5 separate regions of the Homo sapiens genome follow, and all the other regions are linked to region 1. Evidence: fine-mapped expression QTL. A gene starts in region 1. Each other region holds a variant in brackets. All regions are shown on one strand. Distances are between the middles of the regions.

Region 1 (4,113 bases):
AAACAAACGACTGCCCCACTCAACACTATGGACGATGCCACAGCGTAATGTTTAGTGAAAGAAGACAGACCCAAGAGACCACACAGGGTATGCCCCTACTTCTATAAAGTTCAAAGAAAGACAAAATTACATCGAGTGTTTAGAAATGCATACATAGGCCCAGCGTGGTGGCTCACACCTGTGATCCCAGCACTTTGGGAGGCCAAGGCAGGCATATCACCTGAGCCAGGAATTCGAGACCAGGCTGAGCAACATGGAAAAAACCCATCTCTACAAAAAAAAAAAAAAAAAAAAAAAAAAAATATATATATATATATATATATTTATATATACACACACACAAAGATTAGCCGGGCATGGTGGTGTGCACCTGTACACCCAGCTACTTGGGAAGCTGAGGTGGGAGGAACACTTGAGCCTAGGAGGCAGAGGTTGCAGTGAGCTGAGATCATGCCACTGTACTCCCACCTGGGGGACAGAGTGAAACCTTGTCTCAAAAAATGAAGCGAAATTAAATTAAAATAAAAATGCAGACATAGATGGAAAACTTGATAGAAAATCAAGGAAAAATTAGTAGCATGATTAACCCTAAGGGGAAGGGAGGCAGCTGTGATAAGGACAGGGCCCACGGGGGTGGGTTCTGGGAGGCGGCCAGTTTTTCTGTTTCTTGGCCTGGGAGGTGGCTACATGGACATTCACTTTATAATTATTCCTCACACTGCATGCATTTTATGCATTCTTCTGTCTGCAATAATAAACTTCCAGCCTCTGTGCTAGTGAGCAGAGTCTGGTGCCTCTGAGGTAGCCGTGGGGTCAATGGGAGGATGCGCTGCCCTCAGAGGCAGGTCTCTCCAGAGCTCAGGTTGACATCTCCCCATCCCTTGCCCCCAACTACCTCCCCCTTTCTTCAAATCTGTTAGTCTCAGGCTCCATGGGCTGAAACTGAGCCAGTCCTGGGAGCCAGCCTGTGGCTAGAAGGCTGCAGGGCCGTCTCCTGCAGGGCATTGGTGAGAAGAGCGAGGGACTGCCCAGTTCAGGATAGAAGCGATTATGGGCCCCTCACACCACTTCCTGGGGCCAGGCACCAATGCCCTGTGGCCTGCCTCAGTGATGCTCCGACAGAGTACGGGCCCCAGTCCCTCCCCTCCCAGCGCTCCTGAGGAAATGGCAGCCCTCTGAGGTCCCCCGCCAGCACCAGCCCTTGTCCTGGAGAAGTGACTGGCAAAACCTTAGTTTCAGGAGACTGAAATGTGCTCCAGAAAGGAACATGCCAATCTCCACCTAACAACAGCATCAACAACAAACAGTAACTTCCATTCTGCGCATGGGCTAACGTGCCAGCTGCCCTCCTGACTGTCTCCATGCTCACAGACAGCACCAAGGGGGCTTTTTTTAAACCCTTCTTCACAGATGAGAAACCTGAGGCTCAGAGAGGCAAAGAGCTCAAGTCCACACAGCCAGAAAGAGGGGGGGTTAGAATTCAAACCCAGAGCAGAGCCCCTCCAAGGCCTATGCTCTCACGGGGTGCCCCAGCACCCCTAAGCACGGGTGCCATCCCCACAGCATGCCCCCACCCTTCCCGGCACCATCGCCCACAGCACCCCAGGGAGCTGTTGCCCTGTGAAGGGTTCACCCTGAGGTAGAGAGCACTGCCCACAGAGGCCATGACTCGGGGAAGGGGTCAGCCCAGGCCAGCCCCTCCTTCCTTGGCTCCCAGTGCTCAGAGAACAGTGAGTCCAACCTCCTCCCCTAGAGCTGCCACATGAAGGCCCAGAAAGGGTCAGAGACATCCCCACGGTCACACAGCCTCCAAGTCACAGCAGGATGCTTTTTCTTTCTCTGTGTGTTTGTGCTTGCTCCAGTTCAGGTCTTTATCCCTCCCTCCAGGGACTTCAGGGGTCCTGACCCAGCCTCCCATTCACCACCTACAATAGATGGCTTGGTGGACCTATCGTCTCTCACCTCTCTGTCCAGAGGCCAAACCCCTGTCACTGGAGGAATCCAGGGTCCTTGGTCTCTATAGAGACGTTGATGCTCATGGGCCCAGGGAGGCAAGGACGGGGCAGCCCCAGGCCTGGCCCACCCTGGCCCCCACCAGCCACACAGTCCTGGGCCGCAGCCTCCTGTCTGAGCAGGGGCTGGGTGGCCACGAGCTCCACTGCTGGCGTGCTCCAGCTCTCAGCAAAGCTCTCCTTGAATAAACAAGGCTGCATAGCAACCACTCGCTGAAGGAGCCCATAGCTCCCTGCGCGGGGGAGAGACCGAGCCGAGAGATTTTCCCCTTGGTCTCATTGCCTCTGTGGCTCACCGGAGCACAGGCACTACCAAGTGGCCGACCTGTCCTCTAGGGTCATGGACACCACAGAAAGAGAGAGCACTGGGCCCCCCTGCCTGGTGACTGCAGCCAGGAAGTGCATAGCTGGCTTGGTGCAGGGATGTTGTTGGTAGAACTCCTGGTTTTGCTCACATGGCCTCTGGGCTCAATCTGCTTCTGTTTACTAACTCTCCTAGAGGCAGAAAGACAGAGTGAGCATCCAGGCCTTGGCAGCAGGCAGCTGGGTTTGAATCCTGATCCTGCTACTTCCAGCTGTGTGCCCTCTGGTCAGAACTTTACCTTTCTTGACCTCAGTTTCCTCATCTATAAAATGGGTACACCAATAGTACTGACTTGATAGGGTTGCTGTAAGGATTTCAAAGGTGCATGTAACAGCTTGTAATTTTGTCTAGCACTTGGTAGGCTCTCCATCACTTCCCCAGAAATCCTTGCAGAGCAGAAAGCCTGTGGCCTTCGTCCCAACCAGATTTCTCCACCTTAACTTTTGGAAAATGTGAATCCTAGCAGCCCATGTGTACTTTCTCACTGAACCCAGGCTCTTGGGCGGAAATCCCAGGCTGGCATCCTCTCTCTGGAATGACAGCCAGTCCCACTCCTCATGCTACCCCCTTCTAGCCCTCACCATCCAGGGGGCACACAGTGGAAGCCAAGGACTCAATTTGTATGCAGGCTTGCAAACAGCCACTCGCCCAAAGATACTATGAATTTTCCCAGGCAGCTCCTCCCCATATTCTGTACAAAGGAATCAGCAGGTGTGTGGAACACACAGGGATGGCTGGTGGGAGGCCAACTACACCCCACGAGGCCTGGGCTGCTGAAATGCTTGCACACGGGGTAGCTCCTTCCTGGGACTCTCTCCTCTTCCCTGAGATGGCCAGGGAGGGCAGGCCTTGGGAGTAGCTGCTGTCATTTACCAAGATCCAGGAGGGAGCAAGGAGGGCCAGCCAATTATGACTGAGAACAAGGTCCCTCTGGGGCAGGTGCTGGCCCCAAGCCAGAGGTCACAGCTGACAAGGCGAACGGAACTCCTGAACTCCCTGTAGCAGAGGCCCAGAAAGGAGACTCTTCCTCCAAACCAGGAACAGTGGCTGTGCGGATTCCCCTTGGGAGACAGGTATGAAGATGCCCAGGTGGGGAAAGAGAGGCCTGGCAAGTTAAGCCCTTGCCCCAAGCCACACAGCTTGTGAGTGAGAGCGACTCAACCATGGGAACCCAGGGCGGGGACGTGACAAGGCAGGTTTTGGTGTCCCTCAGCTCTGGCAGGGAGATGGTGTGTGTGCAGCTCCCCCAAAGCCCATCTGCATGTCGCTGCTTGAGTCGGAGCTTCTAGAACACAGATCCGATGGCCGTGCCCTGCTGGACACCCCTCATGGCCCCTGCTGTCCTTGGTGTAAGGGCCAGACTTAGCACCATGGCTGCCAAGCCCCTCTAATCAGGCCCCACTGCATCCTCCTTCAGCTCCTGGGCTCTCCACACTCTGCCTCCACTGGATGGCCGAGCATTATGTGTTCCCAAGGTGGGCTGGCCATGCTCTGTGCCAAATGCTAGAGACACAGGAGGCAGCACAGCCTGCCCTCAGGAGCTGAGTGATGGAGAGAGGCCCCAGCAGGTAACCCCCTGCTTGTTCCTGTGTTACCTGCAATAAGGGAGGATGGATAACACAGCACAGCCCTTAAGAACCAGGGCTCTGAAGCCCCTGGATTCCAGACTGGATTCTGATCCCAGCAATGACATCTTAGGCAAGAAACAAACTCTCTGAGTCTTGGTTCTTTCATATG
Region 2 (4,113 bases), 21 kb before region 1:
ACACACACACTCAGACACACACACACATGCATGCACTCACACATATACACATACTCAGACACACACACTCTTGTACTCACATACATGCATATACTCACATATACATGCACACATACACACTCATACACATACACTCACACATACCTGCAGGCACTCATACATGTGTGCACACACAAAGACACTCAGACACACTCACTCTCACACACACGTGCTCTGACATCACTCTGGACTGACCACGGGGATGTTGCTGGCCATCTAGAGCACTGTCTTACTTACAAGCCATAACCCGATTTATGCCAACACAAAGATCCTCTTCCCCACTTGTTTGTGGGATATGAAGACCCCTTTTCAAGTCCAAAAGTTTGTGGACTGTCCCCCATACACATGATACTGGTTGTATTTTTAGTATCCATCAATTAAGAAAATATTTAATTACAAAGAGCTGCCATGAACTCAATCATGCTTTAAAATAGTGTTTTATTCATAGCCGGGCACGGTGTCTCACACCTATAATCCCAGCACTTTGGGAGGCCAAGGAGGGCAGATCACCTGAGGTCAGGAGTTTCAAGACCAGCCTGGCCAACATGCTGAAACCCGTCTCTACTAAAAATACAAAAATTAGCAGGGCATGGTGGTGGGTGCCTGTAATCCCAGCTACTCAGGAGAATCGCTTGAACCCGGGAGGCGGAGGTTGCAGTGAGTTGAGATCACACCACTGCACTCCAGCCTGGGCGACAGAGTGAGACTCCATCTCAAAATTATATATATGAGATAAAATAATTAGTGTTTTATTCATTACTCCGGCAACCTCATCCACTAAGGCACTGGGAGAAGACAGAGGCTGGAGACATTGTTCGTGATGCCATTGACCCAGCCTGCCGGAGCCAAGAGGCAGAGAAGCCCCGGCAACCATGCTGGGACCTCCCTAGGTCTGTGGCTCATGGGTGGAGCCCCCAGCCCTTTCCCTGCCTGGTGTCCCAAGAACTCTGCCACAGCATGGAGGGTCAGCCACAAGGAGCCCCAGTGGATCTCAGGGGGACAGAGGGAGAGAAGTCAGCAAGGAAGGTTTGACTTGGAGCTCTTACCGCGTGCGTGGGGCCCTCAGGCCTGTGAGGACTCCCTGGCCTGGAGGTAACGGGCTGGGAAGGGAGCCAGGCACACGGGAGGGGGTCGCTGCAACCGTCCTGGCCTTTGGGATGGGTGGGATCACGATGGCGCCCAGGGACTTCTGCATCTTCTCATCATTGCAGTGCAGGTATTGCCAGGAGATCTGCGCCTGGGAGCAGAGGCGGGACAGGGGTCTGGCCTATGGCAACATCCCATGGTGAATGCTCACCTCCAGGCACCTCACACAGTGTGGGACCTGCTGTCTCTTTTCAGCCACACCACCCTGGGACCCCCAGAAGCCTGACTGCTTCCTTACCACTCCTGGTGAGGAGACTGGCAAGCCCTTTTGTGACTATTATTATTCGTTTTTCTGTTCTCATTTCAGAAAAATCCTAGAACATCAGAGCTGGAAGGACCTTCAAACACATCTGGGCCAAACCTCTATTTTCATAGATGTGCAAACTGGGGCCCAAAGAGGGGTGTGACTTGCACAAGGTCACACAGCCAGTGAGGGGCAAACAGAAACCAAGGCCCAAATCTGAGTCCTAGCCCAGCATTCTTTGCCACACTCTTGCTTAAAATGGAGAGGGCCAGAAAGCAGGAGGAATTCTGGAACATTTAGACCAGAGAAGGCCTAGGGGACCACCAGTTCTAGGACAAAGGTCATGCAGCCTCTGGCACAGCCACCCAGAGCCCCCAGGCCAGCTATGGAGGTTTGAGATGCTGGGGGAGGTGGTGAAATGAGCACCTTGAGCCTCTCCCAGTGCTGTCCCTATCCTCACTGCAGACCTCAAGACACCTCCAGGGATGCTCAGGGCATGGAGTCAGGGGTTGGTGGAGGCTAGAAAGAAAGGCAGGAGGAAGGGAGGGCAAGAAGCTGAGGACCAGACTCACAGCAGTCGAACCACCTTACCTCCTGAGCACCGGGTCTCAACTCGTGAGGACCCGGAATGCTCCCCGGTAGGTCCAGGCCCTTCTCTTTGACTCCGCTGGCCTCAGGGGTGGTAGGGATGCTCTGGATGAGAGGCATCGGCCTGGGCACCCTCAGCAGCCTCTGAGAGGTGGCTCGGGGGATGGTGCTGTGCAGGGGAACTCCTTGGGGGCCTCCCCCTGGATCCAGAGAGGCTGTACAGGGATGGGGATGGGAAATCAGTTAGTCCCAGAAGAACAGGGAGTGGAAGGTGGATTCAGACCCCAGCAACGGGGCCTTCTGCCCTGGGAAGGACTGGGATGGCGAGGAGAGAGATCAGATCTGTCCCCAACCCCACCACTGGTAGACTGAGCAAGCAGCCACTTCTGAGTGTCTGTGCCATTCCAGAAAGGGCCAATCCAAGTTACCTGTTTAGAATTCAGAGGCAGCGTGGGAAGGAAGGGAAATAAAAGCAGTGCCAGATCAGGAGGAAGCATGGCAGGTCCTGGCCGTGGGTAGAAGCTATGTGACCTCGAGCAAG[G/C]CACTGTCTCTCTGAACCCCATTACACTTCTGTGAAATGGGGTGATTCAATAACATCACTTATATAAGATGCCAGGCAAGTACCTGCCACTGTTTCCCCTTCCTTTTCGGCTGGTGATGTGGGGCGTAGCTGTTTTGACACAGCTAACATAGTCTAAGACAGACCGCCACACTTCCAGCTCCCCTCTGAATGCTTTAGGTGCCCAACAGACATCTTCAGCGCCCTGTGCCCCACCCCATCTCACCCCACAGCCATGCCTCAGGCAAAGGCACAGGGCAAGAAGCACTGGGTTGGGCCAAGAGCTCAGGGTTATCTTTGTAAATATCAGTGATGAGGAATAAAAAAAAAAAAAAGACTAGCATTTTAACTTTCATTCTGGCCTCAACAAAACCACTGCATCAAAACAGCCAAGTCAGGCCAGGCGCAGTGGCTCACGCCTGTAATCCCACACACTTTGGGAGGCCGAGAACGGGAGGATCACTGGAGGTCAGAAGTTCAAGACCAGCCTGGCCAACATGGTGAAACCCCATCTCTACTAAAAATTAGCCGGGCGTGGTGGCACATGCCTGTAGTCCCAGCTACCGGGGAGGCTGAGGCAGGAGAATCGCTTGAACCTGGGAGGTGGAGGTTGCGGTGAGCCGAGATCGCACCACTGCACTCTAGACTGGGCAACAGAGCAAGACTCGGTCTCAAAAAAAAAAAAAAGATTAGCTGGGCCTAGTGGTGGTTGTCTGTAATCCCAGCAACTCAGGAGACTGAGGCAGGAGAATCACTTGAACCCAGAGGTTGCAGTGAGCCAAAATCGCACCACTGCACTCCAGCCTGGGTGACAGAGCGAGACTCTGTTCCAGAAAAAAAAAATTAAAAAAAAATAAACCAGCCAAGTCAAAATATCATCTCTGTTCCTGCACACTCGCTCCCCTCCTGGCTTCCGGTGCTGGTTCTGTTCTGTCTTGGAGCACTGTTGTGTTGTGGTTAGCCTGTGGGGAGCTGAAAGGATGGAAAAGAAGGGGTGTGGTCAAGTGGAGACTGTGCCACTTGCCGGGCCACCTTGAGCCCCAGCTGGGTCAGGGCACAGAGGAGTCAACTCAGCCTCAATGCAGGGGCCAGAGCAGCCCCAGCACTGCCCGGGGGCCAGAGATCCCCGGCCCTCCATGCTTGCTGAGGGGCCTGATAAGTCTATAGGTCACTGCCCATCAGAACATTAGGTAGAACAACTCCATTCTTTTTTTCCCTATGCTGGAACTTTGTAAAAAAGAAATGAAATATCTAGAAAAGGGCTTCAAGCCCCTAAGGGAGAGAGTTGTTGGTCTGGCAGCTCTAGGAGTTGTACCTACTGGAAGTTCTAAGGAAGCTTCTCGGGCATTCCAACCCCACCTTCTGCCTCCATAATGTGCAGCCAGGACAATTCCTCCCAGAGGCTCCCTGGCATTGTCCTGGGCTCCCCGGGAGCTGGAGACACCCCACGGCTCCAGGGAGAGGCTCAGCAGGTGGAGCAGTCTGCACAGGGGAGGGGAAGAACAGCCAACCACAACCCCAGGCTTGACGGCAGCAA
Region 3 (4,113 bases), 41 kb before region 1:
GGTGACCTTGGAGAGAGGAGAGAGGCCCTCCAGGGTGCTGGACCCTGCCAAGGGCTCTGGGACGCATGGAAAATGGGCCCTGCACCACCCTCTTCCTCCACCCCCACCCTTCCCCTGACCTAGGCCTTGCCACGCTGGAAACAAAAACCCTGCAGCCACTCTGAGCAAAACTGTCCCATTTTGTTATCATCTCAATTATTAATCCCATCATTATCATGACCATAGGAAATGTGTACACTCTGTCTTCAAAGCACTTTTACAAAGAATGTCTGATTTGATCTTTGCAACTACCAAGTGAGAAATAGGTACCATGAGAAGCACAGTAGTGCTGACTGAGGCTCTAATTAACCTGGGAGAATGTAACTGTATTTTTTCTGGATGCCTCACTTTGCAGAGGAAACAGAGACCCCAGGCCACATGCAGGAAGGCAGATGCTCCCCACACAGCCCAGGCCCCTGTGTTAACAAAACAGCGTCCTCCGTATTCATCCCCACCCCACCCCCACTGGAGCAGCCCACTCCCAAGGGCAGGGCACAGCCTCCACATGAGAACAAATGTAGCCTCCTGCCTCTCTGGACCCAGCTAGACCAAGCCACAGAGCCATGAAAGAAACGCTTTGGGAAATACTACCACTGCCCTGGAGTTGGGGATCTGGCCCTGGACGCTCCATCCCTCCTTAGGCATTTTGAGTACAGAGGACCATGCAGGCCGACACATGGGCATGTGGGATTCTAATTGTTTCCATTCTCAAAGATTACAAATAAGGAAACCCTAGGCCTCAGTTTTCCAATCTGAGAAATGGGTGGCTACCTCCTACCTCAGTGGCTGAAGGCTGAGAAATAAGCAGGGATCCCCATGTCCCTGAAGCCACAGCCCCTCCACAGCTGCTAGCGGACTGCATCCAGCAGCTGCAGTGGGGCCAAATGCACAGCACACAGGCTGGGGGGCCTCACCTCCCCAGTCACCACCAAGCACACGTCGTGCAGCTTCCCGGTGAGGACCTCTGAGTGACAGGCTGCCAAGCGCTGGATGCTCACCAGACCCTTCTCCTTCATCTGCCTGAGAAGCAAGGCCAGGCCCTGTTGCAGAAGGGTGGAGAGGGAGGAGCCCCACCCCTCTGCAGACTAGGGGCCCCACATCACACACCATCACGGTCCACCGTCACCCGCAGCAGGGTGCCATTCCATGGCCTCAGAGCAGGGTTTCCCGGGGTAACACCCTGGCCTGGAATCCTAACCACTCAGTAAAAGCCAGTTTTATGTGGCCTCTGGCCAGCCCTCAGCTCTGACAGTGCTGTATGGAAGCCCACCCCCCTCCAGGACCTGTCTGGGTCCTTGACACAAAGCCAACACCTTCAATAAAAGGCACTTGAACAGGGAGGACTGAAGGCAGGGAGGGCTTCTCACAAATGTTCTGGAGGCCGAGGCATTGCTTTGCTCATGACTACGGTCCTGCATCCCCACAGTGGGAGGAGCGCTCGGAGCAGATTCAATTTCATTCAGAGAAATAAAGGGCTGCGGCCTTCCTGGGCCCCATGGTGTGGAATCAAATGCATCCTTGCCATGCCTGGCTTTGGTACACCACAGAGCCATGCATAGG[C/T]TGCTTGGAGGGTCGCAGGGCACACACATAAAGCCAGGAACACCACACACTCATGCACACACGCACATAAACACACATATCTATATGCATGCACAGTCCTCCCTCCAAACTGGCTTTTATGCTCCATGGTGCTGGAACCCCAGAGTGGGAGAGGAGGGAAGTTGAGGGGCAGAAGCTATTCTGCAACAGCCCCTGCTTCCGGCCAGAACACAGCACGTGGTGGAAGCATCTCCTCACCAGTCACTGCTGTTGAGGCACTGGAGTGCATCCCTCAGCCCCAGCTCCGGGTTCGAGAAAGGCCTCAACTCCTTACAGGCTCTAAGATCCATCTCCTCCTCTTCTTCCCATTCAGGAGACCCCAACGTGAGCACCGCAGGTAATGAGTTAGCTGCATTCACAAGAAAGAAACAGCAGGCTTCACGCAGCAGGACAGGCAAGAGCCCGAGTGGCCGCTCCTGCCACCGCTCACCATGGGAGGCCGTGCCACCACCCTGAGCCCACCTAACAGGGAGGGTGTACAAGTGGAAGTGCCTGGTGAGGCTAAGAACCCAGCGCCTGGGCCTCCCTCCCCAGGAGCCATGAAGACCTCCTAACTCTACCTTTGGCTGACTTTTCCCCTTCCTGCCCTTGCCAATGCGATTCTTATAAACAGATTTGTGATAAGCCACATGATGTCATGGGACTAAACCCCCCAGTCAGGGGGACACCTCCAAACCTGCCCCATCTGTGGTGGGGTGGGGCCCCCTGAGCCATCAATGAATGATCTCCCTACTCACTTTGGTGGCGGTCTAACCTCATTCCCAACCAGAGGCCTGTATGGTCAGCGCCTCTTCCTTCCCTCTTGCTATCCAGCCTTTTGTGAGGTTGCCCACAAGCAGGGAAGAGTCCAAGAGCAGATGGCTAGAGGAAGACAATGTAGCTAACTGGCACCCACACAGTCCAGATGCAGCCACACACACAGGGACCCACAACAAACAGGTTGTCGTGTTTTCTAGGCTCTCCTTCCCAGGAGACAGATGCTGAAATCATAAACTCCTAGGACAGGAAGGAGTCTTACAGGGCCTCTGTCTAGCCAAATGCCCTGATCACACAGTTGAGGTCCCAGAGGCCCAGAGAGGGTGGGGGACCCTCCACAGCCCCTCGGCTCCTCTGTCAGCACAGCCAGGACAAGAAGATCCCCCTCCCAGTCCAGAGCTCTCACTACCACATCTTCCTTCCTGGCGAGTTTTCTCCCGAGCTTCACCTCCACCAGGATGATTTTCACCACAGTACATCTGGAGGTCCTAGGCAAGTCTGAGTGGAGAGGAAGCCCTTTACTGAAAGTGGACGCACAGCCGGGCACAGTGGCTCACATCTGTAATCCCAGCACTTTGGGAGGCCAAGGCAGGCAGATCACCTGAGATCAGGAGTTCAAGACCAGCCTGCCCAACATGGTGAAACCCTGTCTTTACTAAAAATACAAAAATTAGCTGGGCATAGTGGTACATGCCTGTAATCCCAGATACTCGGGAGGCTGAGGCAGGAGAATCGCTTGAACTCGGGAAGCGTAGGTTGCAGTGAGCCGAGATCATGTCACTGCACTCCAGCCTGGGCGACAGAGTGAGACTCAGTCTCAGGGATTAAAAAAACAAACAAACAAAAAAAGCGGAGACACAAAGCCCTCACTCTTGGACTCTTTTTCAGCACTGCCCTTGGCAGGTGGAACAGTCTCTTAATCAGTTATTTCAGTCACTCTCTGAAAGGCAGGAGGTAATATCCAACCTCCCCATCCTTCCCTGGGCAGCACGGACGTGAATGACATGCTGTCTGCAACGCTCTCAAAAAGAGGCTCAGTCTTCTGGAGCGAGCAATACAGCCACCTGCCCTGCTGCCCCCCTTCCTCGCCTTCACCGCACCCCACAGGGGCATTTAGCATCCACTGGATTTAAAAACAAACCCACAAAAGGCACTGGCAGGGGGATTCCAGCCTCCAGTGTCTTGAGGGCTTGTGTGGCCTCCCCCTTTGCCCTACCTCTGACAGCTTTCCAGTCATGTTCGTATTTGTGCCTTCTGGTTCAGTCATTTCTATTTTTCACACACACAACAGAAGAAGTTGAACAGATCCTGAGCTGAGCTCACCTAAACTAACCCAGTCTCCCAAGAAAGGCCAGCTCCTTGTTGGAAACAGTGAGTTCCTCTTCAAAGGTCCCGCTTGTCCTCTATTTTCAAAGCTTAACTTCCTTGCCTCCTTGCCCCTAGTTACAATAAACAACTTTCCAGCCACTCCCAATCTGTAACCCACATCCATTCCCAATCTGTAACCCACATCAGTTCCCAATCTGTAACAACCCACATCTGTTCCTTATTTGAGGCCCTTAGTTCCAAAACTGCTCTTCCCACCGCTAGAGCCCCTGATCCATTTGAAGTAGCCAGTCGGGATCAGCTTAGATTGTGCTGTCCAACCCCAGCCAATGGGGACCGGACACAGTAGTAGGGACTGACTGCATTAGGGATAAAAACCCCTTCCCTCCTTTG
Region 4 (4,113 bases), 23 kb after region 1:
AGCAAAAGTAACTAAAGAAGACTTGACAAACAAACCCAGTGAGTGAGTGTGGATTGGATCCTGATTTGAAAAGAAACTGAATATTAACGTGCTGCTGCTACACTCCAGCCTGGGTGACAGAGTGAGCAAGATTCTGCCTCAAAAAAAATTAAAAATTAAATAATATTAAATAATTAGACAGGAGGATGGTATTAGGGGATTACGGTTTGGAGCTTCAGAGATATAAGAATGGTATTGTAGTTATTGCAGGAGTCATAATCTGTAGGCACGTCACCCTGAAGTAGTTAAGAATAAAGTGTGATGATGCCTTCAGTTTACTTTCTAGTAGATCAGCAAAAATAAATATATGCACACAAATACAGATGAAGAAAAATATAGCCAAATATAGTCATGGACTGCATAATGACATTTTGGTCAATGTTGGACCACATATACAACGGTGGTCCCATAAGATTATAATACAATAGCGTATTACTTGGCTTTTTCTATGTTTAGATACACACATCTCTCTGTGTTCCAACTGCCTACAGTACTCAGTCCAGGAACATGCTGTCCAGGTTTGTAGCCTAGAAACAATGTAGGCTACATAAGATAGCCCACATGTGTAGCGGGCTGTGCCGCCCAGGTTTATGTCAGTGCACTCTTTGATTCTCACAATGACACAATTTCACCTAACAACATCTTTCAGAACATATCCCCGTTGTTAAGGGTCATATGACTATATCAACAGTGTTTTACTTTAAGTGGCGTGTATATACAGATCATCATACTATTCTTTTTTTTCTTTTTTTTGAGCCAGAGTCTCACTCTGTCGCCCAGGCTGGAGTGCAGTGGCACGATCTCAGCTCACTGCAAGCTCCGCCTCCCAGGTTCACTGCCTCAGCCTCCTGAGTAGCTGGGACTACAGGCGCCCGCCACTACGCCCGGCTAATTTTTTGTATTTTTAGTAGAGATGGGGTTTCAGCATGTTAGCCAGGATGGTCATGATTTCCTGACCTTGTGATCCGCCCCCCTCGGCCTTCCAAAGTGCTGGGATTACAGGCATGAGCCACCGCACCCGGCCTATACTATTCTTTTAACTTTTCTGTATATTTGAAATTTTCCTAAGTTGGGAAAAGAAGTGAAAAACCATATTCTTCTCCCTCTTCCCCACTATCATTGACATATGTAAACTCCTGGATTTCATGGACAAAGTCTATGGGGAAATTGATGCAGTTGGTGTATGATGTGGTTAATTTCTTTCTTATTTTGGCTATTACTTCACTATTTAAGGACATGAGGGGGAAACATCAATTCAAGCTTCCTATGCTCAGCAACTGTGTCAGACTAAAGAGCTGCTGCAGCTTCTCTTGACAGCTGGGCACTTTTTCGGGTTAGCATCTGTAGCCCGGTGGGGAGTTTGGTCAGGTCCAGGGAGGGTACAGCCAGGCCAGGGAAACTGGAGGTGCAGCCACCACCTGGAGACTCGATCTCCTCCCATCAGGATTCCCTCCAGGCCCCTCTCATCACGCCTGCTGCTGGGCTACAGTCATTCAGGTTCCGCTTCAGGACTTGGACACCAGAAAAGAGCTGCAAGCACTTTGGAGATTCTCTCAGCCAATCCCAGAGGGCTGGCGCGCAGAAAGCTCACATCCCCACCCTCCACGGGAGTTTAGACAGGAGGCGGCCAGAACCAACTGCTCTCCCAGAAGGCTGGGATAAAAAGAAATTTGCACAAAGCAAGACTGGCACCTAGTGGATGCTTTTTATATTGACGTTTGTATTATACTTCTAACCAGAGAAAGTAACCTGGACAATCCCGACAAGCCTGGTGAAGATGAGAAAAAATACAATTGTAGCAACCTGGTCGTGCTTCCCCTGAATTCACCAAATCCAAGGAACAGCAAAAAGCCAATACACACGTGTGCACTCCAAAATCCAAAAATGGAATGTCAGCCCGCTGTAGTGGCTCACGCCTGTAATCCCAGCATTTGGGGAGGCCAAGGAGGGAGGATTGCTTAAGCCCAGGAGTTCAAAATCTGGGCAACTTAGCAAGACCCCAACTCTACAAAAAATTTAAAAACTAGCCAGGCATGGTGGTGCATGCCCATAGTCCCAGCTACTCGGGAGGCTGAAGCAGGAGGATCACTTGAGCCTGGGAGTCCGAGGCTGCAGTGAGCCATGATCATGCCACTGCACTCCAGCCTGAAAAACAGGGCAAGACCCTGTCCCAAAAGAAAAGGAAAAAAAAAAAAAACAAGGTCTAGTGAGGGAGAAAGGATCATTTGGAGACACCTGAAAAGAATTTGCCATA[C/T]GCTCTCCACTCATTCAAACTCATTTTGGTTGCTTACCACTAGATAATCTCTTACACCTGATTTCCAACCAATCAAGGACCTCAGTTCTAAAATGCTCAAGTTGCAAATTTCTAGAACGGACCTATTTGTCTTTCACTTTCATCACTCTTGCTTCCTAGAAGGCCCTCCCTCAAATCCTAAAATCATTTAAATCCCTGGCTCTTAATAGATCAATTTCTTTTTTGTCATGACTGTAATGGCTTCACTGGTGAAAGTTAATGACTCATTCTACCTCACATCCTAATTAGTTGCTCAACTGTGTCTCCCTACTCATCCCTATGCCATAGTCCCCCTCCTAGGGACATTCAACACTGTGTCAAATGCAGGGCCCTGAACACCCAGCTGTGAGAGAGTGGCAAAAAAACAAAAACAAAAAAACACCTCTCCTATTGAAGATACCCTCCCCACCCTTGTAGACCCCCTACTCCTTCCCTATCCTATGAAACTGAAGTTCGAAATAAACACACAAAATCATTCATTCATGAGGTAAGAGTGTGGTAAGTATCATGTGAACAAACCTTATCAATGTTGCCCAAACTGGAATGTTCAGATATACACACTCCTAAAGGAGCAATGAGATCATTTCTTCCAGCGTCATGACTCCAGCCAGAGGGAGAAGAGCCACAATTTCCCAATTTTAAAAAATCATCATCATTGTATTACTATCATGTGAGAAAGGTACATTTTAATGTTATAATATTCCGTAATGAAATCAATTCTTGGCCAGGCGCAGTGGCTTATGCCTGTAATTCCAGCACTTTGGGAGGTCGAGGCAGGCGGATCACCTGAGGTCAGGAGTTGGAGACTAGCCTGGCCAACATGGCGAAACCCCGTCTCTACTAAAAATACAAAAATGAGCCAGGCGTGGTGGCGGGCGCCTGTAATCCCGGCTACAGGAGAATTGCTTGAATCCGGGAGAAGAAAGTTGCAGTGAGCCGAAATCACGCCACTACACTCCATACTGGGCAACAAGAGCAAAACTCCATCTCAAACAAACAAACAAAAAGAAATCAATTGTAAATTAACCTATTGGCTTATCACAAGCCCAATCAAAATTCCCATAGGATTTGTTTTTCGTTTTTTGTTTTTTGTTTTTTGAGACAAAGTCTCCCTCTTGTGGCCCAGGCTGGAGTGTAGTGGCGCGATCTCGGCTCACTGCAACCTCCGCCTCCCGGATTCAAGCAATTCTCCTGGGATTACAGATGCCCTCCACCATTCCCGGCCAATTTTTGTACTTTTAGTAGAGACAGGGGTTCGCCATGTTGGCTAGGCTAGTCTCGAACTCCTGACCTCAGGTGATCCGCCCGCCTCGGCCTCCCAAAGTGTTGGGATTACAGGCATGAGCCACCATACCCGGCCAGGATTTATTTTTAACTTGGGTAAAATATTGTGTGGAAGCTCATCTATAAATTGTTACAGCCATACTGAGAGGCAATTTGACGGAATCTATTGAAATTTAAGGTACATGTAGCCTGTGACCAGAATTCCACCTCTCCTTACCCACCTGAGAAAGATGCTGGCACAGGTGCACATAAGGCAGGCACGAGGTCGCCGCAACTTCACTTTACTGAGAAACAGGAAGCACCCCAAGCATCTATCGATCAGGGAATGGCAGCAGTGGTTCTCCGAAGCGCAGCCGTAACACAGCAGCAGCAGCAGCATCACGTGGGACGCATTCTTTGGCCCCCATCTGGCTGAATGAGAAACTCCAGGGTAGGGCAAAGCAGCCTGTGTTTTAACCAGCCCTCCCTCTGATCCTGCTGCAGTTAAAATGAACGTA
Region 5 (4,113 bases), 29 kb before region 1:
GGATCAAGGGCCAAGGGGGAAGAGGGGCTTTGAAGCCTCATCTGCCCAGAGGTAAGAGGCAGAGCAGAGGGCACATGTGGTAGGCACCACCTGGCCAGGGCAAGGACTGCAGGAATGCCACAGATGTGAGGAAGCCCCCAGCTTCAGACAAGACCCTGTGAGCCCCTACCATGTGCTAGGCATGTTGCACACAGAGGGCAGTGTCAGCCCAGTTGCCAGCTGGAGGGCAGAGAGCCCTTTAAGGACTTAACTATTTTTTATGTCACTTCTTCACCTCCACCCCAAAGGGATGCCCTGGAAAGCCCTGTCTGAGCAGCCTGCCCCTGCCACAGGTCCCTGGTGACCTGGTTCTCAAGCAGCAAGCTGGAGAGCCAGGGGAGGAAGTGGTTACTGACTGGGGTCTCCTGGCCCAACCCCCACACCAGCGTCCTCCGGGTTAGCTCTTAAGGTCACTCAGGGTGCCGGTGCATTTCGCCACAGACTGCCTGAGCTCACCCTGCTGCAGCCTGGCCCGGGAGCAGGGGAGAAGCAGCTGCCGCAGAGGTTTCTTGTGCCAGGTCCAGCTTTGTGTCTTGATCCCAGGGCCTCTTGGGCAACAGCCACCCCCCTTCGCCAACTGCCCCACCAGCTGAGCTGATTAGCAGAGTGACCTGCCAGGAAGCTGGTCCTGGGGAGGCCACCCCTCCTGCCGGGCAGTAGAGCGGCTGCCTCCAACTCCTCCCCACCCTGGCCTGGGTTCGGGGTGTTCTGCTCCCCAACCCTGCAGCAGAGGCTCAGCTTCCATCCACCCGTCCCACCTCCCCATAGAGTTCAATCCAGGAAGGATCCCTCCTCCCTCTTTAAAGGCCTCCTACCCTGCCCTGTCCCCTCTCCTCGCCTCAATCCTGTGCTGGCCCTATATCCTGACAGCTAAAGCTCCTGGGGCCAGCTGGCTGAGGTTTGTGGGCTCTGGTTTACCCTCTCATTCTCTAGGTGAGGAATACTCTCTCTACTTGCTTAACACACCGCAAGGGGCAGCTGCTTGATGTGTCAAGACCCCAGCTTTGGAGCCGTGGAAACTTGGCTGCAAGCCTGATGGGGCTCAGCGACCAGGGAGGACATCCTGCTCACAGAGCCTTCGTGTGCCAGCTCGTCTGTCACACACGGCCAGAATTGTCTCTCTTATCGAGGCCGTGGCAAGCTGCACAAGCTGGTGTACGTCATCACACCTGACGTACCAGAGCAGGTGTCAATAAATGTCACTTCTCTTCCACACCTCGCCCGGGCCCGCTGCCACCCTCCGGTTAGACCTCCGGTGACTTCAGCTTCCTGCTGTGAAATGAAGGGCCCAGACACAAGAGCTCTCAGATCTCCTCTGGCCCTAATTCTGTTTCCCTGACCCAGCCCAGGAATGTAGAGAGTCAAATAACAAAGGGAGGTGTGCATGGAAGATACGTACCCAGAGATGCAGGGGTCTTCTCCCGAGGCCCACTCCCCCGAGCCAATCTTAAAAGAACGGGGGAGAGAAAAGCATCATGAGGGATGGCCAGCCAGAGACACTGCTGGGGGAGCCCAGGGTGGCTCCAGGATGGGGCAATGGCCGAGATGGGGGACAGAGGGGACGGCACTGTTATCCCTGCAGAGGCTCTTGGCCCAGGATTCAAGCTGCAGGAGATACAGCTCCCTCTGCAAACACAAGGGCAGGCTGACCACCAGGCCAGGTTCAGCCCCATTTCCTGGCAGTGCAGCTCGCGCATTCCCCAGGAGGCTGACACCCACACAGAAACTGCTGACTTAAAGGAAGCCCCCACCCTCCCGCTGTGCTGCTTGGGCCTGTGGAGTTGACAGCAGCTGCAGTA[A/G]ACAAGGGTAAACTGCCTCCCAGCTTAGACAGCACTGAGCTCAAGTTCTCCAAGCTGCCCCAACCCCGTGAGAGCTCAGTGACCCCTAAATAGTCCCACTCGTGATTGTAATCCCCATCCCAGGGCCTGGGGGGCGGAGCTGATCCCCTTTGCTGTGGCAGGAAGTCACCACTGTTTTGTACCAGAAGCTCAATCCCAATTACCCACAGGAGGGGGAAGACAGTGGCATCCCTGGCACTGGTTTTAATTGTAATTTCTTAAGTTGGAAGCACCATTTACTTATTCAACAGATATTTACTGAAGACCTACTATGTGTCAAGCACTATTCTAGACACTGGGAATGGAGCATCAATAAGACATGACACTCCCCGCCCTCCGGGAGCTCAGGTTCCCATGGAGACCAGCCCTGCAGCGTCCTACATGGCTTTCCCTTCTCGGTGGACATCAGGACCCACTGGGGGGCTGACAGAGTAACAAGCCACAGCAACAGGTCAGGAACACAATATCCCACACACTGGCCTCAGAGGATCACAGTCCAGGCCGGGCTGCAGGAGGGGCGGTAGGACAGCCCCCCTCAGTGCCTGCCTGGATGCAGGGGAACCCTGATCCTTGGGGACTGTGGAGGTCAGGGGAGTCCACAGGAGGAGCGGAGCTTCAACCTGGGCGTAGATCAGCCGGGATTCGCCATTGCTCCCAGGGCCAGGCCCAGCCTCTTGGGTCTGGACCCACAGGGAGGGATCGTGTGGGCTGGAGATAGTAAGCGAATGCTCCAGGGCACCCCTGACCTGGGGAGCTCGCCCACTAGGCCTTTGCCATTGTAACCCACCACTGCTTAACCACTGCCCAACGGCACTAAGAGGATTGGAGGCGGGCGGGGAGGGGAAGTGGAGCATCAAAGTCCACACAGTTGCCCTTGGCTTCTATGAGCTCATGGAGGTCCCAGGCTGCCTGAGGTGAGCACAGGATGCCAAAAACCCCAATGCTTATGCCTCGGCTTTGCCCCTGGGGCCCTGAGCTGCAGCCTCCCCCGCTCTGCGCCCCCCCAACACACACACACACACACACACACACACCTGCTCTGAGCAAGGGATTTGGCCTCAGAGGACTTGGCGCAGCTTCTCTTAAGCTGTGGACCCTGGGGAAGCCTCTTGCCCTCCCCTTCTCTAGCGACCCCACAGCAGAAAGGACTGAGGCCAAGACAGGCCATGCCGATCAGGGCCCCTGCCTTCCTGCACGTGGCAGCCCCGCCCCACCCTGTGCGAACCTCACAGAAAACCCACCACCGCTCAGGCTCCTCCGCAGGCCCCAAGGAGGTGGGTGGAGCAGGAGCAGCAAAGCCCTGTTTCCAGCAAGAGCCCCTCCCGGCTCCAACCCAAACGTCTAAGCATGTCCAAGAGTGGCCTCAGCACTGTCCCCAGCACCTGCCTCTTCTCCTATGCCCTGTCTCCAAGAAGGGTGCCAGTATCTGTCCAGTGGCTGAAGCCAGGAACCCCGGCATGGTCTCAGCTCCCCCATCTTCAGCCCACATCTACCCCGTGGCTTAGCCCTGCCATTCATCCCGCCCCGCCCCCACCTCTGCATCCTCAGCCCACAGACTCCCTGCCTCTGCCCTGCTCAGCCACCCTTTGCCTTCTCCCCGGATTCCTGCAGCAGCCCCACCTCCATCTACACGGTCCATGCCACTCTGAGGTTGCCAACATGGCCTTTCTAAGTCACAGCAGATGCCACTTTCACACCCGAAAGCCTTTGGTGGCACCTCCTTACAGGAGGATGAAGCTCCCACTTCTCAGTTGGCACACAGGCCCTTCACCCCCACCCCGCAGGCTGTCACGCAAGGATGCAGGGGCTCACTCCTCCTTCCGTCTCTCCCTCTTCCACCTCCATCTCCATCTCGCAAGTGTGCCCTCATCCTGCCCTGAGAAGTCTGCCTGGCATGATTCAGATCTCTTTCTCCTGGGTCACCAACATGACAGGCAGCCTTCGCCTACGCACCCACCTCTCTGAACTTCACCTTGATGACTTCCTGGCTGGAGCACACAGATTGTGACCTATGCACCTGGCACATAGTAGGTGCTTAACAGCTTTTAGGTGAGTAAACGGACAGATGGATGACTGAAATGGTAATAGAGCCTCCATCCCCTCCATTGGCTAGAGAGCCCCACATTGTCAACAAAGGGAAATCCATGTCACAAACCAAACAGGAAAGGACAGATATTTATTACGGAACTAATCCATGCCAGGTACCAATCCTGGCCCCACAGAAGCCACAGAGGTT

Alleles and levels. Alleles are on the strand shown, and positions count from the first base shown. SD is a standard deviation of normalised expression in the study named. Not every link is listed here.
For the expression in unexposed skin of the gene that starts at base 2,203 in region 1, T is the high allele of the variant in region 4 and C is the other (moderate effect, 0.56 SD a copy in GTEx).

What was found. PIP is the estimated chance that this variant, and not a neighbour inherited with it, causes the effect.
Region 2: its variant is fine-mapped to the expression of TOGARAM2 in whole blood (TOPMed, PIP above 0.99).
Region 3: its variant is fine-mapped to the expression of TOGARAM2 in whole blood (TOPMed, PIP above 0.99).
Region 4: its variant is fine-mapped to the expression of TOGARAM2 in unexposed skin (GTEx, PIP 0.95). The same link has a PIP of 0.9 or more in sun-exposed skin and whole blood.
Region 5: its variant is fine-mapped to the expression of TOGARAM2 in blood mononuclear cells (TOPMed, PIP above 0.99). The same link has a PIP of 0.9 or more in memory regulatory T cells and whole blood.

What each region holds. Positions count from the first base shown.
Region 1 is chr2:28,979,388-28,983,500 of GRCh38, reverse strand. It overlaps TOGARAM2 (TOG array regulator of axonemal microtubules 2), which reads right to left and starts at 2,203. Exons shown (of 20, transcript NM_199280.4): 1 at 1,963-2,203.
Region 2 is chr2:29,000,655-29,004,767 of GRCh38, reverse strand. It overlaps TOGARAM2 (TOG array regulator of axonemal microtubules 2), which reads right to left. Exons shown (of 20, transcript NM_199280.4): 5 at 2,021-2,232; 6 at 1,086-1,276. Among named protein-coding and RNA genes, the nearest start is that of TOGARAM2, 21 kb to the right of the region's middle. The variant G/C (reference allele first, on the strand shown) is at 2,559.
Region 3 is chr2:29,020,032-29,024,144 of GRCh38, reverse strand. TOGARAM2 (TOG array regulator of axonemal microtubules 2) reads right to left here. Exons shown (of 20, transcript NM_199280.4): 11 at 1,837-1,987; 12 at 954-1,059; 13 at 1-6. Among named protein-coding and RNA genes, the nearest start is that of TOGARAM2, 41 kb to the right of the region's middle. RefSeq lists an enhancer at 1-418. The variant C/T (reference allele first, on the strand shown) is at 1,600.
Region 4 is chr2:28,956,422-28,960,534 of GRCh38, reverse strand. It overlaps a transcript of TOGARAM2 not described here. Among named protein-coding and RNA genes, the nearest start is that of TOGARAM2, 23 kb to the left of the region's middle. The variant C/T (reference allele first, on the strand shown) is at 2,294.
Region 5 is chr2:29,008,827-29,012,939 of GRCh38, reverse strand. TOGARAM2 (TOG array regulator of axonemal microtubules 2) reads right to left here. Exons shown (of 20, transcript NM_199280.4): 7 at 1,439-1,485. Among named protein-coding and RNA genes, the nearest start is that of TOGARAM2, 30 kb to the right of the region's middle. RefSeq lists an enhancer at 1,649-1,778. The variant A/G (reference allele first, on the strand shown) is at 1,839.